Regions from separate parts of the Homo sapiens genome. Here region 1 is linked to region 2. Evidence: fine-mapped expression QTL. A gene starts in region 2. The other region holds a variant in brackets. All regions are shown on one strand. Distances are between the middles of the regions. Region 1 overlaps ARHGAP18 (Rho GTPase activating protein 18). Region 2 holds the start of ARHGAP18 (Rho GTPase activating protein 18).

Region 1 (10,581 bases), 120 kb before region 2:
GCTCCTTGTTACTTCTGCAAATTTCTGCAGTGGGATTGAACTTCTTCCCAGAAAATGGGTTTTTCTTTTCTATCACATTGTCAGGCTGCAAATTTTCCAAACTTTTATGTTCTGCTTCCCCTTCAATGCTTTGCCGCTTAGAAATTTCTTCCACCAGATACCCTAAATCATCTCTCTCAAGTTCAAAGTTCCACAGATCTCTAGGGCAGAGTCAAATTGCCACCAGTTTCTTTGCTAAAGTATAGCAAGAATCACCCTTATTCCAGTTGCCAACAAGTTCCTCATCTCCATCTGTGACCACCTCAGCATGGACTTTTTTGTCCACAACACTATCAGCATTTTGGTCAAAGCCATTCAATGAGTCTCTAGGAAGTTCCAAACTTTCCCACGTCTTCCTGTCTTCTGAGTCCTCCAAGTCTCTAGTTCCAAACTCTTTCACATTTTCTTATCTTCTTCTGAGCCCTCCAAACGGTTCCAACCTCTGCCTGTTACCCAGTTCCAAAATCACTTCCACATTTTCAGGTATCTTTATAGCAGCACCCCACTCTATCGGTACCAATATCTGTATTAGTCGTGGTTCTTGAAAAGGACAGAACTCATAGCATAGATGAGTTTATTAAGGAGTATTGACTCACACGATCACAAGGTGAAGTCCCACAATAGGCCATCTGCAAGCTGAGGAGCAAGGAAGCCAGTTCGAGTCCCAAAACCTCAAAAGTGGGGAAGCTGACAGTGCAGCCTTCAGTCTGTGGCTGAAGGTCAGACAGCCCCTGGTAAACCATTGGTGTAAGTCCAAGGGTCCAAACATTGAAGAACTTGGAGTCCAATGTTCCAGAGCAGGAAGCATCCAGCCAGGAAAAAGATGAAGGCCAGAGGACTCAGCAAGTCTGTTCTTTCCACTTTCTTCTGCCTGCTTTTATTCTAGCCATGCTGGCAGCTGATTAGATGGTGCCCACCAAGCCTCTCCCAGTCCATTGACCCAAATATTAATCTTCTTTGGCAACACCCTCACAGACACACCCAGGAACAATATTTTGCATCCTTTAATCCAATCAAGTTGACCCTCAATATTGAGTGACAACTTAATGCTTTCTAAATGAGCTCAGGTACCATAGCTTTGGGGAGTATGACCATGCCATGCTTCCTTATGAAATGAGGTGTTGAGTTCAGGGTGGTAAAAGGACTTGCACAGAAAGCACCACATCTGACCCAGGAATCTAGGATCTTTCTGATAGTTAAGAGTTTTAATAGAGAGTCCCAAGATACTAGCTTCTGGGGGCAATTGGGAGTTTTCACGTATATGTGTAATGTTAGGTAATTGACATATTATGGGGTACACAGGCTGGTTTTTGCCAAGATGGGAAGCAGCATGAGTACTCTCCTACAGATTCCTTCTGGCTATGAAATAAAAACATTTCCCACATCCCTTTCCCTCAATGAGCAGAGGATGAGGTTAAGCCACCTTTGAGCTCAGCAAGAACCCTTCCCAAGCTACAAACGGTAGTCATTTTGACTCATTTCACAAAGAGCTGGAATATCAATATCCTTGGAAAGCATTTCATTAAACCAACAATGGTACATGGTTTTCATTAAACCTTCCTAGGCTGACATTCTCTGACCACTAGAGAACCTGTATTCTACGGCAGGGAGAGAGAGTGTGTGTGTGGTTTGTGTGTCTATGGGATATGAACATTTCTCAGCTTGTTTATTTCTGTAGTGATTCATCCCATCCAAATTCTTACAACAATACAGAGATTGAGAGTTTGACTCAATATGGATATACAATGCTCTTTATCCCTGAAGAAGAAACGAGTTTAACCAGTATATATAATGGTAAAGCTAAAGAGTTAAAGTTGTTTCTGGGAAGTTTTTGCTGGATATCTTGACAAGGAAGGCCAAATGATATTTACAAAGATGATAAACAATAAATTATGCCAAAGCCATCATTTAAATGGTGTATGAAAACCACTATTAAGTACTAGAATCATGCTGTATCGAATACTGAAGTTATTACTATACTAATTACATTGAGTTGCCAAGCTTTGAAAAGATACAACATGCCTGATCGTTAAGCCAGTCTGTTCTTAACTTGAGCCATAATAATAACTGAATCTGTACACAGTATGATCTTTATAACCCTTCTCTTTCACATGTTTTAATCTAAAATTGTCACTCTGTCTCCTGCTTTTTTTTCCCATTGAGATAGGGGAGGAGCGTGCTTGTGAACTGCAGTTATGTGAGGTACAGCAGGACTGGAGAAGGGCAGTATTTGACTAACACTCCATCAAAGAAAAGTCACAAAGGATTTTACAACTTCAAGAGTGTTAATTTCTTATGCATGCTAAGATTATTAAAATAGAGAAAATGACCTCATATGGTCTTCACATGTTTTACATATTGAACTGAAGTTTATATTTCTAAACCTGATTTTATTATTATCTGGTTAAATAACAATTTTAGCATTTTTTCATAAGGTATCTAAAAACACTGCATTGCTCATATTTTTGCACTCTAGAGATTAGAAATTTAATGTCAGACCGGTAAAAGAGGTCTCTTTCTTTTTCATTAAAAGCTAATTTAAATGTAAAGCTGACATTTTTTATGCTACAGAAAACCCTTTTTATCTTCAAAAGGGCAAATTGGAAATACAGCTTTTTCAAAAAGAAGGCCAGATATAACACATATTTTAGAAAATTAAACAGGGACATTTTAGCAAGGTATCTTAAACTAAAATGGTATATTCATCACCCTAGTCTGAACTGACAATACTGGGAAGTGGTGATATAAAAGGAATTCGCTACTATCTTGAACTATGTGCTAATTATAATTGGATCTTTGTTATCCAAATGCCTTAAACTTTTATCCAACTCACAGATTCAGAGGATTTTAAAGAAAGGCTTAAAATAACTTCCATAGTTAATAAGAATTTAATTTCCAATGACATAAGTTCTAATATTTTTTTTTAATGTGGTATTTTTATGCAGTATTAAAAATCAGGGAATGTCATAAAAAGAAATAAGATTTTGTGCTTGATATTGTAATCTGATTTTCCACTTGGGTCCCCAAGTAAATCCAGCCACTATTTCCAGACCTAAAGCAGATGCTTGAAACAATACCTGCAACAATGCTTTGCAGCAAGAACTGTTAAATGAAATCAGAGATGCAATTCTAAACAGAGTTGTGCATAAAGGCACGCAACCCTGGCCACAAACAACTCAGCATCTACACCGCACTGCTGCCAATGCCAGGATTCTTCCAGTGGTAGCAACAGATTTCTTTTTCACATCCATAGCCCTACACTTTAAAATGTGACAACATTATTCTGGAACTTTCAGCAAGTCACGTAAGCTCTCTAAAGCTTGAGTTCCTCCCTGGTAAATTAAGGGTGTGATACTAGCATGTCCCAAGTTAACACTAACATTAACCCTATGAGAGAAAGCCTTTTGTTTCCTTGACCTATGAGGTCAGAAGTGGTGAGCAGCATGGCATTTTGGACAGAATCTCATACAGCCACTCTGTACCCTCACTCTCATAAATGAACAGCCTCCCTTTGAGAGGTGAGCTTGAATGGCAGAAGAAACATCATACAAACCTAAGTCACAATAACCCTGAGGCCTGGATGAGTCAACAAATCACAACCAATTGTTCATCAAAGCTGCCCCCTACATTCTTAGTAGGCAGAGATGCAATCTGAGGTAATTATAAGATATCCTTTAAAATTCTAAAAGGAAAAAACATGTGGGAGACAGGATGCAACAAGATCAGAAAAATGTGTTCGATTGTTGATGATAAAGGTTTTGGGGGGCTCATGTACTATTCTTTCTACTCGTATGTGTTTAAAAAGTTTCATGATAAAATTAAATATACATATGCATACACACACACAAACACACCAATAGGAAGAGGGAATTACCCTTCCAGCTTTTAGACGATACACACGCCCAAGTCCTGCCCTGGGAGAGTCTGACTCAGTGGGTCTAGCGAGTCACCCAATCACGGTTTGCTTTTTGTTTTGTTCTAAAATAATATTACCAGGCCAGGTGCAGTGGCTTACACCTGTAATCTCAGGTGTGAAAGGCTGAGGAGGGAGGATCGCTTCATGCCAGGAGTTCGAGACCAGCCTGTGTAACGTAGCAAGACCCTGTCTCTACAAAATAGTTTAAAAATTAACCAGGCATGGTGATGCATGCCTGTAGTCCCAGCTACTCATGAGGCTGAGGTGGGAGGATCCCTTGAGCCTGCAACTTTGAGGTTACAATGAGCCATGATTGCACCATTGCACTTCAGCCTGGGTGAAAAAGCAAGACCTTATCTCCAAAAATAAACAAACCTTTAAAAAATTAAATATTACAGATGCCACTATTGTGAACTTCTGGTTAAACACCATTAACCTGATCCTACCCTATCATTTTATAAAAGAAACTGAAGCCCACAGAGGTAAAATGACTTGTCACACTCACTCGTGGCAGAGCTGGGGCTATATCCTCAGGCCACATGACTTCTGAGGTGTATGTGTGGGTGTAGATGTGTGTGTTATCAATCCCGACAAGTTAAAGCCTATCAGAAAATGATTATTATTAATGGTCTACAATTTTCTTATTTTTCCTCCAACTGTTTCTTCCTACTATAATTAATGGATAAGACATACTAGTATTTAAGAACATCTACATTTGGACCAAACACTCAGTATGCTGTAGTCACTAAAAACATTTGCCTCATGAGGTAAATTGAGTACATCTTAAAACCTGGCTCAAATTATTAATTAACTAGTGTAGTCTAGCACGTCTTAATAATACAAATGCCCAATTATAAACGGTTAGTTTTAATAGCATACAAAATTATTATTTTTTTAACAGGGGTGTCACTGTTTTACCCAGGCTGGCATCTAACTCTTAGGCTCAAGTGATCCTCCTGTTCAGCCTCCCAAGTAGCTGGGACTACAGGTGCATGCCACTGCATTGAGTCAAAGCCTCTTAAAAATATTACCTTGAAGAATGTTTATGATCTATAGTCTCTTTCACTCTCCAATCCCTGGCAATCTAGCTTTTTCCATAAATTACCATTGACAATGCTTTGGGGAAAGTAATAATTAACCTTCAAATTCAAAAACCTTTGT[T/C]CAGTGTTAACCTTACTCAGTCTCTCTGCAGCATTTGGCACTACTAACCAAGCTCTTTTTACTTACTTTACTCTTCCTGCCTGGGCTTCAGAGAAAATATACATCCTTCAACTTTCTCTTACTTCCTATTATTTCCTAGCCTCCTTCACCAGCTCTTCTTGAATGGCCCATACTTAAACATTGGAATCCCCTAGAGATCTCTCTTTGTCTCTTTATTTTCTTACTCCATATATCCACCTTGTGTAATATGAACCACTCTATGACTTCAACAACAATCTCTAGGCTAATCCCAAAGGTGTGCCTCCAATGCTGGATGCTCCTTGAAATTCAGGCCCCTGTAGCCGACTCACACAGGCACGTTAACCCAAAGTGTCAAAAACTCACTTTTAAGTCTGTCCCCCTTTTGCTTGATGCTAAAGTCACCCAAGGCCAAATTTGGCAAGTCATTCTAGATTCCCTTCTTCTTCCACATTCTTCACATCCAACCAGTATCCACATGTTGCAGGGTTCCTATTGGCTCACATTCTAAACTTCTTTCGATTCTCAACTGGGCCTTGGCTCTAGCCCAGGACCATTTTAAGAACTACATATAAAACATATTTTATAACAGCAGTAATCCATGTTCATTGTATTACCACCCATAAGCCCAGAGTTTTGGTATATATCCTTCTTAGAGTCCTTCTGTGATCTATGGAGAAACAGAGAATAATGGTGAAGAGTCCATGGATTTAAAGTCATATAGATTTGGTTTCAAATTCCAGCTCCACTAATTCCTATCTAGATAACCTTAGTAACTTTAAGATTGCTAATTCTCACTTTCCTCATCTGAAAAAAATTAGACAATAATACACCCCAATTAGACTACCATAAATATTACGAGACAATATTTGTAAAATGTTTAGCATTGTGTCTGACCTCTGCAAAGCATTAAAATCATAGCTATTACCCCCTAAAAATATAGCACTACACCATTCACTGACTCGTAACTTCTTTTATCACATAGTAACATATTACGAATCTCTTCAATGTCAAGATACACATTTGTACACTTTCATGGTATTTCGCTGTATAGATATGCCATAATGTATTTAACTAGCCACCTCTGTTCTTTTGGATTATCTCTAATTTTGGTCAGTGTAAGAAAATGGCAATGAACTTAACCATAAATATTTGCATGTTCATGCTATTACTCTCTTTGGAGGAATATCTGAGTCCAGTGAAGAGCATGGCTTTCAGGACTTTGCCACATGCTGCTGTTCTCTGGAAGAACTCTACCAATTTATATACTCCCATCAACAAGGAAATTACCTACCATCTCCTACCTACCCTCCAATCTTACACTCCCTCAAATCTTTCCTTCACCTTTCAGCAGTTCCCTGTCATGCACAGAATAGAAACTTTGCTATCAATCTCTCTTAAGGCTCACTCCTGCTTTCCCTCTGCCCCTGTCTCTCTATGCACCTAAGTGGCCAGTTAGTATGACCTGATTTTCTCTCCAAACATTTCAAATATCCCCACTTAAATGTCCAATAGACATCATACTCAATATGTCCTAAATTGAAATCATGAAATTGAAAGCAATACCATCCTTCCAATTTCTCAGGCCAAAAATCAGAGTCATTTTTGACCTCTTTTGTTCTCCTACATGATTTCCATCAGGAAATCTCAATGGCTCTAACTTCAAAACAAAATCCAGAATCCAACCATTTCTCCACTTTCCGATGCTGATACCCTGGTCTGAACCACCATTATCTCTTACCTGGATTACAAGAACCTCCCAAATGATCTCCCTATTTTTCTTTGCTCCCTTTTAGTCTATTCTCAACACAACAGCCTAAGGAATCATTTTAAAACATAGTATAGATTTTCAAGCCTTTGCTTCAAACCCCCATTTCACTCAGAGTAAATCCAAATTTCTAATGATGGTCTATCTACAAGGCCCTATGCAATCTTGCCCCATTGCCCCTCTGACCTCATTTCACACTACCGTTCCCTCTGCTGGCTTCACTCCAGCTACACTCACTCCTTAAGGTAAGTTCCTGTCTTAAGGTTTTTTCACAGACTATTCTTTCTGCCTGGACTGAGTTTCCTGAGATATACACACAACTCAACTCCCTGCCCTTCTTCTTGTCTTTGCTTAAATGAATAATATCCAGACCATCTCAACTTAATAGTGCCAGGGGATCTCCTTCCCAATTCCCCTTGTTCTGTTGTTTTTATTACTTTTGGAGGATAAATCACATACTAACACATTATATGAATTACTTCCTAGATTTACTTTTATTTTTAGAATTTAAGCTCTGGAAGAGCAGTGATCTTTGTATGTTTTGTCCAATAATTTATATTTCAAGTACCCAGTAATTCCTGGCACACAGTAGGCACATATCAAGTAACTGTTTAACAAATGACAAAAGCTACCCCCAGGCAATTTCATGCCCTATAGTTTCATATTGCATATTTAAATGATTTGGAGGAGAGTCAAGAAACTACAGCAACCAGACAGAATGAAGGAGGGGGCATGGCTTACAGCAAAGTAGATGGTCCATGTTCCATGCAAAAGGAACGGCTCCTACTCAAATCCAGGGAATTGCTACCCTGATGGAAAGCAGGCCTCTTACTGCCAGAAGATGAGGGATGCCCCAACATCCATTTGTCATTAAGACGGTGGTTCAAACTTTCACATTAAATGTTTTAGCTTTAGAATTCTGGCAGTTGCCAGTTGGAAGCAACATGCAAAAAACTCTTGTTACTTAGTAACTTACCACATATCCACAGTATTTGAACTTAGCTTGCACCTCTACTTGTTCTGTAATTGCTTTGTGTGTCTATTTACTCTCCCTAATAAAATGGCATAATTTTTTTTTTAAATTTTGGCTATTGATTAGAATTTTTTTTTTTTTTTGAGATGAAGTCTCACTCTGTCACCCAAACTGGAGTGCAGTGGCGCAATCTTGGCTCACTGCCTCCCAGGTTCAAGCGATTCTCCTGCCTTAGCTTCTCAAGTAGCTGGACTACAGGTGTGTGCTACCACGTCCAGCCAATTTTTATATTTTTAGCAGAGATGAGGTTCCACTGTCTTGGCCAGGCTGGAGATGAGAATTTTTCTACCAAAATGACAGGCCAAACAGACCTCCACCATGGGCTGTGATGTCAGAAAGCTTCCACTGCAGGTTAGATGGCTCTTCTCTAGTGACACCTGAACAACACTGATTTATTTTTCACATCTCAGCTTGACTCCCCAGTGAAGCCTCTCTCATGCTTACTTCCTGTTTTGTAGATTACGGTACCCTGGTCAGGCTTCAATCACATACCTCTGAGCTACATCCCTTCTATATGCCTTCTCCTGGCTCCTCGAGGGTGAGCACCCAGCTCCCTGACTCCCTGGGAACACCTAACATAAAGTGGGGGCCTAGCACCAAGGTGGCAATAGCATTTTGTTGATGAGTAACTGAATTTCACATAAGGAAAGAAAAAAAAAAACTCAAAGAGGTAAAGTTACAGCTAATATGTGATGAAACTGATATTTAAATCCCAAGCTTTAAAATGACAATACAGTTTTTAAATAGTACAGAGATCATTCTCAGACCAGATCATGTCTAACTATGCCAAAGTGCAAACTAAAGAAGTTAATGCTTTTTTTTCCATAAATGACAAAATTACTAAAATATTCCATTTCCAAAAAGTAAACGTTTCAGTTTTTCTAAATATTATTTAAAAGGTACACCCCAAATGTTTCCTTAAGTAGATCCTGAGCTTCAGAATATCACAGCTAAATGCCCTATAAAAAGACAAGACTATAAAGTCACTTAATATGAATAAGAAGGGCTACAAAACAGACTTAATTCACATATTTACAATGGTCTTAGAGGTAACAGAACATTCTAAAGTTAACCAAATGCCAAAAAAAAAGGCTTTCTAAAAGCCTTTAGGATAATATCAAGGCCTTTCTAAAAAAATAAGCATATTTACAACTTCTCTTTATGTTTTTAAAGATATTTAAAACTTGATTTAAAATGTTTTACAATGCCAAGAAAGTATCATTTTTTAAGAGTGAGAGCTATAAATAAATCTAAGAGAAAAACTTCGTTTTTATGATTACTGGATCCATAAGCAGGCCAAAACCGAAAATTCAGACAAAGGCAGATAACTGCATTTTCACATTATTCCACAAGATGTCAGCATGTAACTGAACAACTTCAATGGTGGTGGTAGTAGGGAGGAGGTGGATTCACTTAAATAGAACAATAGAAACCCTTTCATTTCATGAACTTACGCTACAGCTTTGGTAACTTACTTCATAAATGTATATCCATGTATATTTTATTATTGTAAACCCAGTTCTTAATATACTCTTACAGTAGTTTATAAATACAGATATTTAGGTATTTCTTTTTTGAAACATCTTAATTTTTTTCTTTCCAATTTAGCTCTCAAAATTCTTCTGATCAAATTGAGAACCTTCAAATACTTATTAAAGTCCAGGAATAATCCTAGGCACAACACAAACATTAACCTATTTGTCCATCTGGATTAGTTATTTTTCCCCATTCTACAGATGAGAAAAATTTAGAAAAAAATGTCAGTGGTTCACATGATGTTATTTACTCACTATAGATTATATATTCAGTAGGCGACTAGAGTCTCCGCACGAGAGGTAGAGGTAGGGGTAGGGGTGTAGGGGTGTGTGTGTGTGTGTGTGTTCAGTCTTGTCTTGATATCTTCCTTTGTTCCCCATTAACAACTCACATGCTGAGTCACCAACACCTGACCAACTGTCAATACTGATCATTAGCAGCAGTAGTAGGAAGACAGTTACTGATGTCTTTCACTTACAAGTAGCACCACAGCCTAATAAGTGGCAGAAAGTCATACTATGAAAACATTAAATAAAAAATTTTGGTATTAAAAAAATACTTAAGATCTGAATAAATACATATCTCCACTATTTTCTTACATCATTTGTACTCTTATCTTGCTTTTCATATTTTTCTCGGTCATAAGCCATTTTCTTCAGCAATTTCTTCATGGCTCTTTTATCCTTTTTATGATTTTCCGTGTTTTGCTTCCTCACTTGGTTTACAATAAACTTGGGAATCTATAGAGAAAAGGAATTAAGCTTAGAGAGGAAAAAGAAATGCCACCATTTTAAACTACAAAAAAAAATTATATTTTTTTAAATTTCAAAAACAGTAAAGAGTTTCTCTTTTTGATAAGACTGCCATTTTACATGCACTATTCATTAAATCTGTGAAAAGAAAATACTTCATATTATTCACTTACCAGGTGTACAGGGCATCCACGTGGTATAATTTGCCACCCACTGTGGAAGGTTCCAAAAGAGGCTTTGTGAAGTTCAAGGACATAGTGGCCGTTTTCTATGCCAGACTGGAGACCCCCTGAGGTGACGAGCAGTAGAAGCCACCTCCGTAGGTCTTTCCTTTTGCAGCCTCCTACCTACAGCCCTG
Region 2 (10,581 bases):
AAACCCTGGCCCAAACCACCACTGCCTTAACCTATTAAGCAGTACCACTGCTTCTACACTCTATAATCAATATAACAGCCAGAGGGACCTTTTAAATGTGCTCTCTTCCTCCACTGCTCAAAACCCACTCCCTCAATGGCTTCCCATCTTACTTTCAGCAAAAACTCAAGTCCTCAAATGTTCTATAAGGTTATCAACTCCCACCTTGCTTTCTTCTTCCTCCCTCCTCCTTATCCTGACCCCTGCAGTCATGCAGGGCTCTTTGCTCTCTGGGTGCTTGGTTTCAGACTTACTCTATCTAGGCTTATGGCTTCTACACTCTCTACCCACTATCTGCCTTAAAAACTCTTCTTCTAATTCTTGCCCCCAGATATTTTGGGGCTCACCTGTCACCTGCTCAGGTCTTTATTTTCCCCTCCAGGCTACCCTCCCTGCACCCAGATGTTTGTCTGGTTTATTTCCCCCCATTACAACCCCAGTATTTAAACAATTGCCTGACACACAGTAAGAGAGAGCTCTTATATGTGGAATGACTGAATGATTATGCTTGCAGAACCAAGGAATGGGTGAGACATGAACAAGTCAAGAACTGAGATAAGCTTATAAAGATGATAGTCCTCTTCCATTTGGCATGCTGGGCAGTAGTAGTTCTTAAAGCAGAGGAAGGAAGCATGGAGACAGGAGTGAGTCCAGCTGCCAAAAGAGGATCCACCCACATTCTATCTTGCCATAGAGTCAATATTTGCAGACCTCAATGCCCATCAATACCCCCCAAGAAAGGCCTGGTATAGGCAATTGTTACCAGTTCAAATCATAAATGGTGCTATGGATCAGGATGATATTTCCAAGGTCTTTCAAACTTCAAAGGCCTAAACTTTTACATTATGGTTCATTCTCAAATATGTCATTTTTTAAGCATATGGATAATGCCCATGTTTCTTAACACATGACAAAATAATATTCAGAAAAACGCTTCTGAAACAAGGGAGAATATTCTATATCCTGCAAAACTCAATCCTTTCTTTCCTTTTCTTTACCTAGTATTAAGGAAAGTAGCAGCTAGCTACAAACCAGACACTCTTCTATGGGCTTGACAGAGGTCATCCCACTCAGTTGTCTTAATCAGGTGAGTAATATTATGAAGTTCAATTTATGGGTAGAGAGATAACTCCTCCAAGGTCACACTGCTAATGAATGAGAGAGCTGGGATATGACCCCAGACAGGTTGGCCCCAGAACCCAGGGTTTCTGGGTTTATGTCACCCCTGTGTAGTGCCTCTTGTTTCTGCCTACCCAATACCAATGGCAAGTTGGGTCAACAAGACCTTACATGATGAATGCCATACATTTATTCAGAGAAGGCATAAAAATATCTCACTCATCAGTCCATTCAGTTAGCTAAGGAATTAAAAGGCCCAATAAAAAAGGTTACTTGACATTCATATTAAAATATTAGCAAAAAATATGCAAAGCAAACAACCATTTCTCTTAAAATGGGAAGGTAAGAGAGAACAGTAAGAATAGACAAAACACAATATTCTTCGAAAAAATTCTTTTCAAAACTAAATATTAAGAAGCCTGCTTGAAAAACAAGTAAACAAAGTCTTATAAATATAGCTACTCATAAAAAGTGGTTTCCTTTGGAAACATTCAACTGTGTACAAGTCGGCCATGACAACTAATGTTAACATATTTCTTCAAATCCTCATGTTTTGAGGAGGAAACATACAAAAGAAAAACAGGATTCTATAAAGGGAGAGGCTCTAACCAGGAGTGGGAGGAATTCCTTAATCTGACATTCAATGACTGTTTTCTGATAAAGAGGGATAATGGAATGGAGAAAATTTAGCTAACAAATTACTTCCAAAAATATTAATTCCCTACTATCTCAGCTTTTCAAAAGACCAAATGGTAATAAAAAAGGACATGGAGCCGGGTGCAGTGGCTCATGCCTGTAATCTCGGCACTTTGGGAGGATGAGGTGGGCAGATCATCTGAGGTCAGGAGTTCGAGACCAGCCTGGTCAACATGGTGAAACCCCGTCTCTACTAAAAATACAAAAATTAGCCAGGGGTGGTGGCACTCGCCTGTAATCCCAGCTGCTTGGGAGGCTGAAGCAGGAGAATCACTTGAGCCTGGAGACGGAGGTTGCAGTGAGCCCAGATCGTGCCACGGCATTCCAGCCTGGGTGACAGAGTAAGACTCTGTCTCAAAAAAAAAAAAAAAAAAAAAAGACTTGGTATGGCTAGGCTAAAAATCAAACACTTTCAGGCTGGGCGCAGTGGCTCATGCCTGTAATCCCAGCACTTTGGGGGGCCAAGGTGGGCAGATCACCTGAAGTCGGGAGTTCGAGACCAGCCTGACCAACATGGAGAAACCCCGACTCCACTAAAAAAAAAAAATACAAAATTAGCCAGGCGTGGTGGTGCATGCCTGTGGTCCCAGCTACTATAGAGGCTGAGGCAGGAGAATAGCTTGAACCTGGGAGGCAGAGGTTGTGGTGAGCCAAGAGTGCGCCATTGTGCTCCAGCCTGAGCAACAAGAACAAAACTCCATCTCGAAAAAAAAAAGGAAACAATTTTCAATAAATACGCTAAGTCATACACATATGTATAAATGGCATTATAAAGACATGAATTCATCTCATGAACTAAATATTGGATTAAATATTTCAAAGAACATATTACTTACAGACAAAATCTTGTGATAAGAAAAGTTATACTTCCGTGCTATCTTCTATAATTTTTAAATGGGTAGGAGGAAATGCAGAATCTAATTTAGCTTTTATTTTTTATTTATTTATTTATTTTTTGAGACAGGGTCTCACTCCCTCACCCAGGCTGGAGTGCAGTGGCGTGATCTCAGCTCACTGCAATCTCTGCTCCACCAGCCTCAAGTGATCCTCACACTTCAGCCTCCTGAGTAGCTGGGACCACGGGCATGCACTACCATTTCTAGTTTGTTTGTGGTTTCTTGTTTTTTTTTTTTTTTTTGTATTTTTGGTAGAGCTGTGGGGGCGGGGGTCTTTTTTTTGCCCAGGCTGGTCTCTAACTCCTGAGCTCAAGCAATCCACCCACCTCAGCTTCCCAAAGTGCTGAGATGACAGGTGTGAGCCATCACACCCAGCCTAATGTAGCCTTTTTAAGAGTTTTGTTTTGTTTTTACTTTTTGGAGAACTTCTTTAAATAGGCATCAACCATCAACCTTGCACCTTGGAGCAGCTTCCCAGGGCTTAAAACAACACCTGACCAACCCAGCCAAAGCCAAAGCCAAAGTCCAGTTCACCGCCCCGAAACCACTATCACCATTCTTAGGTGGTCACCGAGGACCCCATCCCACCTTCAAATCCTCCTTCCTTCTATCCATCCCCTCCCCCATAGCAATTACAGTATCTCAATCCTTTCAGGCTAAACAGGGTATCTCCCAAAACAACAACAAGTTTATCTGATTCGTTAGCCCTTAAGGGTAAAAGCCATTGAAAACTAGCCCTACTCCCTCCTTCCTCCCTGCCCTCAAACCAGGCTCCCATCTTCTCCGGTCAATATCAGGAACGATCCCTAGAACTAATTCAGTGGTGGGAAGTTGGGTCTGGTATGGGCAGGCTACGTGACAGCCAGCAAAGGAGCTCACCTGGAGCTGTGGCCCCACACAGGGCACTTGCCGTGTGGGCAGCTGCCCACCCTGCCACCTTAGTGCCTCTTGGTTCTGCTTCAGCCTAGGCAGAGAATGATCTGATCCTCTCTTATTCTCTCAACCCACTCAAGTATGGGCCACCCACACTGCAAACACAGAATAATGAGTCTCCAGAACTGGAGATGCAGCCCCAGACAAAGGCCTAGAACTCCAGACCTTCCAAAAACTTAACTAATCCCTGGGGTTTGAGTCCTACGTGAAAATGAGAGGTTAGGACTCAGTCCTTAAGGTCCTTTCCATTCTCACAATCAAGATCCAAGATTCAGCTCAGGTCCTCAGGCCATTCAGCCTAAAGTCGGAGAATGTCCTGAGCTTGTATAATTTTGGCAATTTTGACTGACATGTGGAATCCAAGTTATGGCTGGGTATGGGGTTGGTGTTGCAGGCTGCTTTACTGCTTAATGATTACTAATACATTACAGAAAAATGGATGAAAACACTTCAAGATCTCTTGATTTAATGATTTAACATTAAGTCATTTAAAATGATGGAAAATGAAATGGTAACACAGCTAAGGCACAAGCACCAAATCTTTTTTATCTTTGGAAATGAATTCATTCAATGAAATACATACTGTGGATGCTATGTGAGAAACAGTTCCCGTCAGCTGGGAGTCTAACACTGAGTATTACAGCCATTCCTTTGATTTTTCTCCCTCCCTCATATTTGGAGATTTTAAAACAAATGAAAGGCAGCATTATTTCAGCTTAAGGCACAGGCATAAGTCACATAAGAACAAAGAAGGTTTTATTATCACATTAAGCATTGAGGAGGAAATGTGCTTACCGATAACTAATTTAGTGTTCTAGGCTATTAGGTTAGTATTTGCTTCTTGCAATCTTCTAGGCCAATATTTACTATTTATATCTTGATGGAGGTAAAAATGTTCAGCTAGTGAGAAGGTCATTAAGGAGAGAAAGAAAAAAAAAAGCCCTTGGAAAATGGAACAAAGTACACAGATAGGGAGAAAGGTACCCTTTGCGCCTCAGTGGTCTATAGAACATTTGCCCTCTCTGCCTATAAAGTGATTTAACATTAACCACATTTCACTCCAGCAGCAGAGTGCTATCTCCTGACAAAAACTCCTTTTTGAAAGCCTGGGGGAAAAAAAATCCACATACACAAAAGAATGTGAAACATATTGCCACAGGCCAGTGTCTTGGGCTTTTTGCCTAAGAGGTTTGCTTTCAGCAAAGAGAGGGGGGAAAAAAAACACTCTAACAACAACAGCTTGTACAGTACAGTGAACAGCCTCCCTGCTTTTTGGCAGACTTTCCCAGCGAACAGTTCCAGTGGCAGTGCCTTGAGCCCATTCAAGAATTCCATTTCATAGGAAAGGAAGTGTTTCAGATAGACCTATTTGATCTTTCAGCATGTGCAAATGCACCTGCTAAATAGCTAGTCTGACAGCCCATATAGCCCTCTCCCCAGTTCCTTCTTCTCTGTCTTCACCAGTAATCATATGGGTTATTTCAGACTTGGACTAGGTGAGATGAAAAGTACATAAAAATCACGCCAAACGTTGCTACTGCTGCTGCACGAGCTCAGGCTCGACGTGCAGATGGAATTCCCTTCTCCCCACGCCAACTTCCCTGTCACTTTCTTCCTGGAGCAGGTAAGAGGGTTTTGTTTTGTTTTCAGCTTCCGAAGGCTTACCTCGAGGTGGCTTCCTCCCCTGCCTTTGCATGGCTGTTCCCGACGGTCTGGTCCTTGCCGCTGGGGTGGTAGGCTGTTAGTACCACTCCCTGGGAACTGGAGAGCCAGCTCATGGTGAGAGAAGGGACATACTTTCTGCGATCCTGACACAGAGAAGGGGAAAGAAGTTCCTGTCTCGCCTGGCAACTCGCTCATTAGCATTGGCCAGCTCCTCCCCGCAGGCTGGCGATTCACACGGGGAGGGGCGGGGTCTGTCCAGGGAAGGGCTTCCTGCCTCTCCAATTAGAAGCTGCAACTCACAGCATGGTTTCAACTCTGGACAATTGCACTCTGGGCGGCTTTGGTTAAAGGAGGCGAAGGGTGGAAGCGACGGGTTGCACCCACCCCCAAGTTAGTCTGATCAGATTAAACTGCCAGAACGTATATTCAACTCATCACTGTAACTACAAGCCGTCTTACTTAGGAAACCATGAGTTGCTGCCAAGGCTTTTTTTTTTCCCTCCCCAATTCCTCTATCTTATAATTTCTGCTACTTAATGTAACATGAGTAAAGGCATTTCTTAACCCCTTCATGTTCAGCGTTAAAATTAGCCATAGTAAAAAACAACGAACCCGCGGCAAAACTCTGCAATCCAGACGACGAGAAAGGCTTGATCCTTGTGTCCGGTTAAAAATGCCCTCATAAAAATTGTGTGTCCTGGAATGTCGTCGTCTTTCACATAAAGCCAATCTCAAATATACGTCTTGTTTTAGCAAAATATTTTTCAGCACCAAAAAGGGATAGACCTACCAATGCTCTGTTAAGTGTTATTGCTGAGAACAAGAGAAGTCCCTGCCATTTGTTGAGCACCTACTATATGCCAAGCTCTCATGGACGGGGGTTTCACATGTATTATCTCATTCCATTCAATTCTCTCTCTCTCACACACACACACACACCGTACAAGATAGGTATCACTATCATCTGTGTTATACATAACACAAGGAAAGTAAGGCTGAGGGACGAGTTAAGTAACTTCACTAAGATAACACAGTTGCTAGTGCCAGAAGCTGGATTTGAACAGAATTCTAGGCTACATTCCTTTTATTTTTCACCAGTATGCTCTTCTTTGTTTTGCAGATTAAGAAACAAGATCAAAATTATCATAAACACAAAAGACAGCTCTGTTCTTTCTCCCCATCTCCCCTCCAAAAAAAAAAATCACTTTTTTGGTTTGTTTTTGAATCAGGGTCTCACTCTGTCACCCAGGCTGGAGTACAGTGGTGATTGTAACTCACTGCAGCCTCAACCTCCCAGGCTCAAGAAATCCTCCAGCCTCAGCCTCCCCAATAGCTAAGACCACAGGCATGCACTACCACGCCCAGCTAATTTTTTTATGCTTTGTGGAGAGGGAGGGTCTCACTGTGTTGCCCAGGCTGGTCTTGAACTCCTGGGCTCAAGCAATCCTCTTGGCTCAAGCTCCCAAAGTATTGAGATTACAGGCATGAGCCACCACGCCTGGCTTCTACTCTGACATACCCAGTAGTCTGAAGGTTTTTTTAGATTTTTATGATTCATTCAACTCTCTAGAATTCCTCTTGAACAAGTTTCCAATTCCATCATTACATAAACTTATTGCTTATACCTTATCATTATTTAAAACAGTCATGAAAAATAATTTCTTCCTCCTTACATACTCTAGAAGTATCTGAAATTTATTTTTGAACCCTCTTTCTTATAATTTACAAAAGTCTTCCTTAAAAGGAATTTATATCTTCCTCCCTCCCCCCTGCACAACTGCTCAACCTTCCCATTTCCACTTCCATAGGACTTTACTTGCTGTCTCCTTTTTATCCCCATGACCTCAACCACCTCTGGATCCTATAATGCAGTCTTAGCTCCAATATTACAACAGCCCTTTTAGCTCATCTCCCTGTCACCTCCTTTAAATTGCTTTGACATTATGATCACACCCTGGCACTCATGATCCCTCTCCTCGCTTAAAAACCTTCATTGGCTCTCTATTGCTAACAGAGCCAGTTCCAGGCTTTTGAGCAGATCACTGGGCATTCCTGCTACCTTATACATACAAGTCTTTCCATCTGCTAGACACAATCTTTTCAGGTCCTACTATGATTCTTTTCTCTTCATCTGACAGCTAACTTAAATTTTGTACCTACTGAGCCTTCAGTAAACACTGAATGGAGGAAAACCTGAATGAATTGAAAGTATCCTTTAAAACTCTACTAAATTTTTTTTTTTTTTTGAGACAGAGTTTCGCTCTTGTTGCCCAGGCTGGAGTGCAATGGCATGATCTCGGCTCACCACAATCTCCACCTCCCAGGTTCAAGCGATTCTCCTGCCTCAGTCTCCCGAGTAGCTGGGATTACAGGCATGTGTCACGACGCTGGCTAATTTTGTATTTTTAGTAGAGACTGGGTTTCTCCATGTTGGTCAGGCTGGTCTTGAACTCCCGAACTCAGGTGATCCGCCCACCTCGGCCTCCCAAAGTGCTGGGATTACAGGCATGAGCCACCGCGCCCGGCCAACTCTACTAAATCTTTATATTAAAATTGGTAATATTAGATAAGCGGTTCCCATGCACATACCAGTGCTAACCTATGAGGAAATGTTCATCAGTTCAGGCAAAACAAAAACTATAAAGAGAGGGAGGCAAAGATTAAAGTAAATTAGAATATATGTGTTTTGTCTTTTCAGTGTCCTTACATGGAAAAAATGTTAATAACCAGCTCATCCACCCCTCCTTTTTTATGTAGCTACTCTGAAATGCAAACATATGGGAATCACTATCTTATACAATTATTGATGGTAATCACTACATTATCTTTTGGAAATTCTTTTCTGTTTCCCTCCCACCTTTTTCTCCCCCCTTACTTCCCTCTACCTCCCTTTTTATTATCTTCCTTTTTTTTCTAGTTTTCCTTCTTCCTTTGCTATGTCTTTAGCCTGTCAATGTCATCCATGCCCATTGGCAGCCACGGGCACTGCATCTCTCATGTGACAGTTTGCGATGAAGATTTTGTCCAGTTATAGCCAAAACAATTATTTAGTTATATTTTTGCCTAATTATGGTCTTTTCACTTGTTTAATAACAAATCACAATGTACAGGTTGAAATGTAATTGTTTTACAATGTCAAAATAATATTTGGGTTTGCAATATCCACCGTTTTTAATTTCTGTGAGGCAGAAAACCAAATGTGATACAAATTGATTTACATAGCTTAGTACATAAAATTTGAATCCTTCTAATTTAGCTCTCAAATACCTGAAAATCCTCTGAGCTTTTTCTCCTTTCCTCCCACCAAGCCCTGTTGCTACTGGTCGAAGGGTATTACCTATCACAGGCAGAGAGCTGGTAGGACTGTGGCCTGGTGTTCATAGCCTCAGATACATGCTCAAGTAGATTAAAAACAGTTTTCAGAATTTTCCCATGTCATCAAAGAAGCAAACCTAACTACCAGTGTGGTCTCTTAAAAAGCTGTTCTTTGGGAGGCCAAGGTAGGTGGATCACCTGAGGTCAGGAGCTCAGGACCAGCCTGGCCAACATGGTGAAACCCCGTCTCTACTAAAAAATACAAAAATTAGCCGGGTGGCGTGGTGGTGGGCACCTGTAATCCCAGCTACTCAGGAGGCTGAGACAGGAGAATTGCTTGAACCCAGGAGGCGGAGGTTGCAGTGAGCCGAGATCATACCACTGCACTCCAGCCTGGGAGACAGAGCGAGACTCCGTCTCAAAAAAAAAAAAAAAAAAGAAAAAGAAAAAAAGAAAAACAACGACAAAAACAAAAACAAAAAAAAAAACCTGTTCTTATTTCACACTGTAAACTGTACTAAGGTTTAGCTCATGTCCATCCCTTATACCATTATCGCTCTTTTGCAGAGACAAATATTATGAAAAAAAACAAAACACTTTTTTACTCCTTTCCGCAACCATTTTAAACACACACTGAGAACCTCATGACCTTGAAGATGTTAATATTCCCAGCTATTGAGTGCGTGCCAAACACTTTCCTGTTATGAAACATCTTAAAAAGTAATTAACAACATCAAGACAGTTTAAACATTCATTTCATTCATTCTGTTTAAATGAGGTGTACTAGATGACACAGGAAAGGAAAAGGAAGCGGTAATTTATGTACCCAAATAGGTTGTTAAAAATAGGGTGAAGATGGTACTGCAGTCTCTGACAATTTGACACCCATGTTCAAAAACAATGAAAAAATTTTTCTTCAGTTCAGTGCTAGTGGTAGCAAAGAGTTTATTAGCTGGTTTTTATATGTTGATTTAGGAGCCTATTTAGTATTAGAAGGAATTGTATTAGAAGAGTGCCATGCAATGGAATCAGCATATAATTTATCAAATTTTTCCTGAATTGGTCTAGTTCTCTTAAAAAAAAAAAAAGAATTAAAGGAGAATATGTACACACAATCTCTATATGATGATGAAAATCTACATAGGGACAAAAGCCATGTGAAAATGACCTTCCAAATGGTAAAATTAAACCCAATTTTCAATATTATAACAAGAACTTGAATAAATTAATCAACTGTGAAGTTAAAGTTTTACATAGGTGATAAAGGCTAGACATATGAAGCAGGATTGACTAATGAAGAGGAAGAGTTCTTAACATCCCTTACCTCATGTTTTATCAGGACCTCGTAGGAATAGTTCTTGTCAGCTTACAAAGTTAGCTACCTCTGTGCTAGGGTACTATGACTGAAAATTATTCCATATACAGAATCTCAAACTATTTCCTTGGGAATTACACTCATTGTTATTAATTCTGTCTCTGGAACAACAAGAAATAACCCTTTTCCCTTTCTCTGGACAGCTCTAAAAATGTCTACGTTATTCTCAAAGTTATTTTCTTAACTGCTCCTCCTGCGAGAAAATACTAGCCATGCTTGGGATAATTTGTAACTGCTATTGCCAGAGGCTAATTTAGGCTTTTCGGCAATCATTTAGAAAAGATGTTTCTTACAAATAGTTTATTACCAATAAATAACAATAGCTAATATTGAGTCCTTACTCTTCGCTAGACATGGTATACATGGTCTATCATTTAATCATCACAATCACCACCAGGGATAGAAATTGGAATTACGCTCACTTTAGAGATGAGGAATATGAGGTCATCCAGTTAGTAGGTGGCAGAACCAGGACATGTAAACCTGGGTTTATGTGACCTTGGAGCCTGAGCTCTTAAGCATTATAAAGGTTACAGCAGTCCT

The links.
Region 1: its variant is fine-mapped to the expression of ARHGAP18 in whole blood (INTERVAL, PIP 0.91).

What each region holds. Positions count from the first base shown.
Region 1 is chr6:129,589,146-129,599,726 of GRCh38, forward strand. It overlaps ARHGAP18 (Rho GTPase activating protein 18), which reads right to left. Exons shown (of 15, transcript NM_033515.3): 12 at 10,071-10,211. Among named protein-coding and RNA genes, the nearest start is that of ARHGAP18, 120 kb to the right of the region's middle. RefSeq lists an enhancer at 9,719-10,013. The variant T/C (reference allele first, on the strand shown) is at 5,117.
Region 2 is chr6:129,704,676-129,715,256 of GRCh38, forward strand. ARHGAP18 (Rho GTPase activating protein 18) reads right to left here and starts at 5,502. Exons shown (of 15, transcript NM_033515.3): 1 at 5,349-5,502. The coding sequence starts at 5,461. RefSeq lists enhancers at 1-19, 40-99 and a silencer at 5,776-5,855.